Homo sapiens: one gene and its partner. The protein of the gene in region 2 interacts with the protein of the main gene of each other region in a pairwise test. Each region holds a gene or a part of one and is shown on either strand. Other genes may lie near its edges.

Evidence for each region.
Region 1: the proteins of TTC12 (region 2) and HPCAL4 interact in binary tests that used the Homo sapiens proteins (3 or more experiments, as listed by UniProt).

What each region holds. Positions count from the first base shown.
Region 1 is NC_000001.11:39,681,373-39,685,021, forward strand, and holds part of HPCAL4 (hippocalcin-like protein 4), read right to left. Parts: intron 3,240-3,649; 5' UTR 3,232-3,239; coding exon 3,070-3,231; intron 2,781-3,069; coding exon 2,565-2,780; intron 1,362-2,564; coding exon 1,164-1,361; 3' UTR 1-1,163. UniProt on the Homo sapiens protein: May be involved in the calcium-dependent regulation of rhodopsin phosphorylation.
Region 2 is NC_000011.10:113,359,573-113,363,221, reverse strand, and holds part of TTC12 (tetratricopeptide repeat protein 12), read right to left. Parts: intron 3,283-3,649; coding exon 3,214-3,282; intron 822-3,213; coding exon 720-821; intron 1-719. UniProt on the Homo sapiens protein: Cytoplasmic protein that plays a role in the proper assembly of dynein arm complexes in motile cilia in both respiratory cells and sperm flagella.

The DNA.
Region 1 (3,649 bases), on a different chromosome or scaffold from region 2:
AGAAACGAACTACCAAGATACGGAATATACACTAGTTTCACTCTTTGCAAACCTTGCTTTTTCCTGTCCCTGAAGTCAGCACCCAACCGGAGTAAGTATGTAGCAGAAAGTTGCTTGTTGAATTGAAAAAGGTAATAAAAAGGAAGAGCTGAAGCAGCAAAAACTGCTGAGAGTGGCAGCTCAGGACTTAGTCTTAAAAAGTGTTATCTGGTAAATTTCATGGTCTTTTCTCCCTTTCTTCTCAGGTTTTTTCCCCTTGAAAATTAATATTTTCTCTATTCATTTAATCATTTTATAAGAAACCAAGTAATATAGAGTATATTTTAACCTCCTGAAATAATAAAATGACTGTAGCTCCTTTAAAGGGTACTAAAAAAATAAGTATGACATAAATTTCATTTTTCTTAAAACTTTCACTCACGTGGCTCCTAAACTTCCAAATGCTTTTCATTTCGTCCTTCTGCAGCTTTGTGTGGAGCTGAGCTGGAAGATGAAATAGCTCCTCCCAGACTAACCAGCCTTCCAGCACCTTCTGCTTAGCTGAGACCCTGACGGCTGGAAGTTTGCCTCACAACCCTATGAGCTTCCAGAGGGCACAAGATGTGTCTTGTAAATGACCATATCCTTAGCACCAAACAGGTGCTCAGTAATCATTAGCTGAAGAAAGGACTGAATGAACGCTCCAAAGGCTGGGGCTGGAAGGGCCAGGTAGAGTAGAAGGGATGGGGAAGAGACCCCCTTTATGGGATCTGGAGCCTCAGGAATGGACAGACCCAATTTGGCCCTGTGACAGGCCTGTGGGACCACATCCTATAAAGCATAATCCCAGGATCAAGAGAATTCCTAACCAGAACCCCAGGCCCCCAACTCCTTAACCTCACCTCCTGGGGCAAAAGCCAACTCCCCTATGCCCAATGGACATTGGTTCTGGCCAAGTGGGAGGTGGGGCTAGAAGACAGGGTACTGGAGGACCTGTCTCTTTTGCAGGGTGAGGTGGTCCCTCAAAGATCTTGATGGAGGGGAGGAAGGGCTTGGGCAGAGGACTGGGTGGGCCAGAGAGGGGGGCTGGAGTGTCCCTCCTCCTGGGAGGCCAGCCAGAGAGGTCATCAGGTTGGGAGGTGGCCATGCCCCTTCTGGCCAGGGACCCTGCCCCTCACCAGCTTCTACTTCTGCATGTCACACTGCAGCAGCAACACAATGGATGGGTCACTCTTGGCTGCCTCCTTGAACTCCTCCAATGTAATCTGGTCGTCCTTATCCTGGTCCATCTTCTTGAAGATCTTGTCCACACGCTGCTGGGGCGTGAGCCCGTCCTGGTTCATGCGCATCATGATCACGGTGCCCACCATCTTGTAGATTGCCTGGTGAGGGAAGGAGGAGGGAGGTGTGAACACCCACAAGGGGCCCCGAGAAGCAGCGGGTGAAGGAAAGGGATCTGGCAGGGAGAACACTGGGGGTTGGTGAGGATACTGGAAGGTATATGTGGTCATTAAGACTGGATATTTAATGAGCAACTCTTTTTTTTTTTGAAACAGAGTTTCGATCTTGTTGCCCAGGATGGAGTGCAATGGCGCGATCTCGGCTTACTGCAACCTCTGCCTCCTGGGTTCAAGTGATTTTCCTGCTTCAGCCTCCTGAGTAGCTGGGATTACAGGCATGCACCAACACGTCCCGCTAATTTTTGTATTTTTAGTAGAGACGGGGTTTCACCATGTTGACCGGGTTGGTCTCGAACTCATTACCTCAGGTAATCCACCGGCCTCACCCTCCCAAAGTGCTAGGATTACAGGCGTGAGCCACCACGCCCAGCCCTCAACTAATTTTTTATTTAGACTAAATAATATTTATGTGGATGAAACATGCCAGAAGCCCAACTCCGTGGAGACCTTACTGATGGGGCTCCTGGCTCCCCGTATGACCACCTTCCTATCACTCTCTCCCTCTCATGGCTCTCCCACCACCGGGCCTCCTGGCCCCTCCTTGAACTCTGCAGAGAAAGGCCGACCTGCCTTAATTGCCCCTCAGCATGGAACGCTTTCCCCCAGGCATCTTGCAGTAAAGGCCTCACCCCATTCAGGCTGCTGCTAACTTTCCATCTTATATAAAGTAACTTCTCCATCACGCGCTCTCCCTGCACTTTGCTTAGTGTATCTTCCTCATAGCACCTACGGCCTGACCCCGCATGTCTTCATTCATTTATTTTTTAAAAAAATTTCTCACTAGAAGGAATGCCCCATGAAAGCAAGAACTGGCAGGCGCTCAATCCCTGCCTGTTGACAGAATGAGTTGAAAACATCAGCTATGAGGTCAGACTCCCTGGATTGGAATCAGGAACCCGGCCGTTTCCTCCTCTGCCAAATGGGGTTTGGGACAGTAACCAACCCCTCCGCCCCGTCGAGTGTCGGGTAAAGCATTTAGCCCGGGCCTGTAGCGGGGTGGTAGGAGGCGGGATCGCAGGCTGGGGAGCAGCAGGGAGGCCCCGAAGCCCGAGAGCAGCGCGGAGGCAGGGGCGGGGATGGCGAAGCGCTGGCCTCGGGAACAGCAGCGCCCGCGCGGCCCCGCACCTCGATGATCTCCAGCATCTCCAGGCGCGTGATGCGCCCGTCGCCGTCCAGGTCGTACATCTCAAAGGCCCAGTTGAGCTTCTGCTCGAAGCTGCCGCGGGAGGTGACCGACAGGGCGCAGATGAACTCCCGGAAGTCGATGGTGCCGTCGCCGTTCTTGTCGAAGGTGCGGAAAGCGTGCTGCGCGAACTTGGAGGCGTCGCCGTAGGGGAAGAACTGAGGGGGGTGCGGTGGGTTGGGGCGCAGCGACAGCCCCGCCCACCCCGCCCCCATCTCAGGGAACCTCCCCTGCACCCCGGGTGCCTCGCCTCCTCCCACCCCGGGTGCCTTGCCCCCGCCACCCCGGGTGCCTCACCTCCCCCGCACCCCGGGTGCCTCGCCTCCCCTCCCACCCCGGGTGCCTCGCCTCTTCTCATCCCAGGGTGCCCTGCCTCCCTCACCCCCGGTTCCTCGCCTCCCCCAACCCGGGTACTTGGCTCCCTCACACCAGGTGCCGGCCGCCCACCTTGATGTAGAGCTGCTGAAACTCCTCCAGGTTGAGGATGCCGCTGGGGCAGTCCTTCAGGAAGCCCTTGTACCACTGCTTCAGCTCCTGCTCGCTGAACTCAGTGTTCTGAACAAGGTCCTCCAGCACCTCGGGGGCCAGCTTGCTGTTGGTCTTCCCCATGGCGGGGCCTGTGGGACAGAGGGATTCCTCCGACTGGGTCCAGGGAAAGGCCCTGCCTCAGCCACAGCTGCCCCCTCCCCTGCCACACACAGGGCGGGGTTGCAGGTTCCTTCCCCTCATGACACTCCCCCATAATGGGGCCTCCTCTCCCCTCACAACACCTGCATTCAGGTAGGTTTCTTCTCCTAGCCCCGGGGGTCTCCCGCCTTCCAGGTCTCAGCTCTCCTCCTCACTGACCGTGCAGCACGCCACAGTCTTCATCCTCTCCCCTCCTGCTCACACCTTTCATGGCTCCCCTGCCCACAGACTAAGGCCTTGACTCCTCTCCTTGCCATTTAGGGCTTTCTGAAGTCAGCCCCCACCCTCCTTGGCAGGCTTCTGTCCTGAGAAGGGACCCAAGGTAGGTTCCTTGTGTGTC
Region 2 (3,649 bases):
AGACCCCCTGTGCTGCCCCCTCAGTGTCACCCCTGCCCTAGCAGCAGCCCGCAGAGCATGCTTCCCTGCGCCACTCAGCCTGATGCTTTATGAATAAAAGCCATGTGTCACCACACTAACATGGGTGTATGGACCTCATGGGCACACACATCATAGGTGGGATTCTGAGATGGCAGCCTAGTGTATTAATCCCCTTCGCCCTTGCAGGTGAATCCAGATAACTGCTCTACTGGCTTGCTTAGATTCACCACACTCATCTCACAGGGAAATCCCAACATCCTTTGGTCACATGGTAATTCTGCAGGCTACATGTCTCATAGATGGAGTTCCATCCAACACTCTCCAGATAACTGTATAAAGCATCATGAGTAGCAAAACCTGAGCAGAACAATGTGCCTGAGAAACGTTACAGAAAGCCACTCAGATCATTTTTATCAAGAACAGTGGCCATATATTTTTAAGTCAGGCTTGAGGGGTAAGCAGGTTTTATAGATGTATCTAATGAACAATTTTCTTATTTATTCAACAATCTGTTGTTGATGTTCAGAGTATGGTCTGGGTAGACAGGCAGAAGCAAATCCCTATCCAAGAAGTTTAAAATCTAGCAAGGAAGAAATGGCAGCACATTAACCAAACAAAGCCCACCTTAATTCTGTTCCCCGAATAAAATAGGAGACTTCTGTACATTTCAGGGGTTGTAACCAATAAAGTGATCTTACCTTCAGGAATTTCATCATTTTCTTTACCACTCCTGCTCGCAAGGCCTCCTCAACAATTTTCAGAGAGGAAGAAAGGGTCCGGCTCAGAACACCAGCAGCTCTCTGAGTACAGCAGAAAGAGGATAATTAAATGTCCTTTTCAGAAATGCTGACAACCTTTAAAAGCTAACGGGGAGTTTGGTGAGGCAAAAGCAATCATTATATTGGAAGCAAAATATAAAAAATATGATGGCCAAATAATAGAAAGCACTGTTCTTTTTAATAAAGCTGTCAAGGAGCTGTAATCATAGCCCCTTGCCACCCAGAGGCCCATATTATTTCAGCTTCACACAGGATCAACCAGTTCCACTCTGAGAAAGGAAGTTCTCCCTTGTGATTCCTCCCAGAGCTCTGATATCAGCAGGCCCTTTATAAGGAGATGTTTGATTTCCTGGATTGGTCTTCTGTGTCATTTATCTTTATCTTTTCGAATCTTTGTCTTTTGTTCTAGTTTCTGGGATAGTTCATTTACTTTATTTCCCGGCTCTTCTTTCTTTTTTTTTTTTTTTAAATAAATGCCAAGCTGTTACTCTTTTATGGATATAACTATCTTAAATCTTTCTCAGGATACAAATGATAGTTACTATTTTTTTCTTCTGTTTCCTATATCATCTCTATTTCTTTTGGATCAATTTTTATGTTTATCTTGGTTTTCCTATTTATGTGTGTAGCTTTCCTGCAATGTCTGGTTGACCCTTTACCTGCCCAATCACATGTATGAAAAAAGCAAGAAAATATGTTTGGGCATGCTATGTTTATGGGAAGTTTATCAGAAGTATGGAAAGATATAGAGGTGGCACCCCCGTATACTAGAAAGAAAAATGTTTTCTCCAGTTTTTCAGTTCTTTAGAGATAAAAGTGTTCTGATTTTATGCCTGGAGGATAGATGCCTGCCAGCAAACGCAGCTCCACTGCCTTGTACTTCTGCTCTCTGTTGTATCGGGAGTTTTGAAATCTTCATCCTCTCCAGGGTATTATAAGGCAAACCTGCTACTGCCCAGCTACGTGTTCCTCCATTTGTACTCCATACAAAGGTTTCCTCAGCCCTGCCTCATTAATTACCACCCTTGCAGCTGTTCTCCATCTTCAGGAAACTTGTTAAAATTACTTACCTATTGGTAACCATTGCCTGTTCACTGTCAACGTAGGTCTCTACTTTTTTTGTTCCCCCCCAATGGCTTTAATCTCATTTTAATGAGGTCTCCAGAGGGAGAAAAGATAAACTTGTGTATTATCAATCTTGTTTCCCTAATCTGCTTCCTAAAGATCCTAGAATTTTGCTATAGTTGACACCACGGATCCCCTTTCAGGCCCAAGACAGTGGAGACTGTGCTAGACAAGGACCAGATGCCCATGGTGAAGCTGCTGCTCTGCTCAGCAAGCTGGGAAGCACCCAACGTGGCACACAAGGAATGCTGGGGAAATCTGGCCCAAGAGCTCTCCTAAAGGTTTACTCAGGCACTAGTGTAGGCTCACCTTTAGGTCTGGACCATCCGGAAACGGTGGTGCTTACCACTTTGGGGGTCATAGACCTCTTTTGAGGATCTGATGAAAGCTACGATGCCCCGTCTGTGAAAATGCACACGCACAAAACCTTTGCCCTATCCTGTCTGAATTGACTTTGGGGACGTTTAAAGAGTGCTACCCCCAAACAGGGTATGTTGGATCTACTCAGAACATTTTTTAAACTGTGGAGGCAGTCCTCAGTCTGCAACCCTTGAAAGGCTGGTTTCCCAGACCCACCCTAGATGTGGCCCTAATTGCTTCCCTAGCCATTAGGGTCCTGCCCTGACAGGGAGAAAAACGGGTGATCACTTAATGTGAGTGAAGAATACGTTCTAGGGTGATGGCAAATAGCCTCTTGAATCATACTAATATTCTTCTCCTGATGCACTGTGCTAACATATAGGCCTTTCTCAGTTTTCTTATTCAAATGTCAGACACAGAATTGAGAAAGCCATTTCAGCATATATTTTAAAAAGAGGGTAAAACTATTATGCACAAACAACCTCTAGGATCACTGGCTTAAAATATGGGCTTGGCTTTTTTTTTTTCTTATGGAAAAAAGGGATTCTAAATAAGTTGGACACTTGATCTGTCCAATTTGCACAGGATATTTTGAAATAGGACAGATCGGATCGATTATATCATCTAAGCTGGTTAAATTTCAGACCATACGGAAGGGGGATTCTTAAGTTGGGTTCCTGGACTCTAGGGGATCCACAGATGACGGACACAGCAAGGAGGTCACCAAATCTCTGAAACTGTAGACAAAACCTGGTATTTATGTGCTTGTGTACATTATTCTGAATAGTATATCCACACCATATCTCAGAGTCAGCAGATTCTCAAAGGTGGCAACTTCAAAAAGATTACACTGATAATAAAACAAAACAAAACAAAACAAAACAAGAACAATGGAAGCTGCTTCTGGATTTCCCTGGGAGAAACTTACTGTCAGGATTCCTCCATCCTGGCTGTTTAGTAAAGACAGGCACCTTCTGCTCACCTCCACAGCCCAAACCTACAACAATGGGGAGAGGCCAGCAGGAGATTTTAATTTTCTGACAATCTGAATTCTCAGCGGAGCTTCTTCTGAGCACCGTCTCCTTTTTAGCACCACCACACTATGCCCAGGTTCCCTCACAACACCATCTTTTACTGCTTTTATTCCTCCCCATGTCTGTCTCCCCTAACTCCAGGGCATTACCCTGATAGCAGGAACCGCCTTTTATTTGACTTTGTAAATGCAGCACCTCATACTCTGCTCAGCACACCTTGGATACCCAGTCTGTTTTCTGAGTGAATACATGACTGAGTGGTGATCCATCCATCCCTCAGCAGAGCAAAGGGAGAGCGCATCCCTCCAGCCTTTTCCCATTCCACGGCCA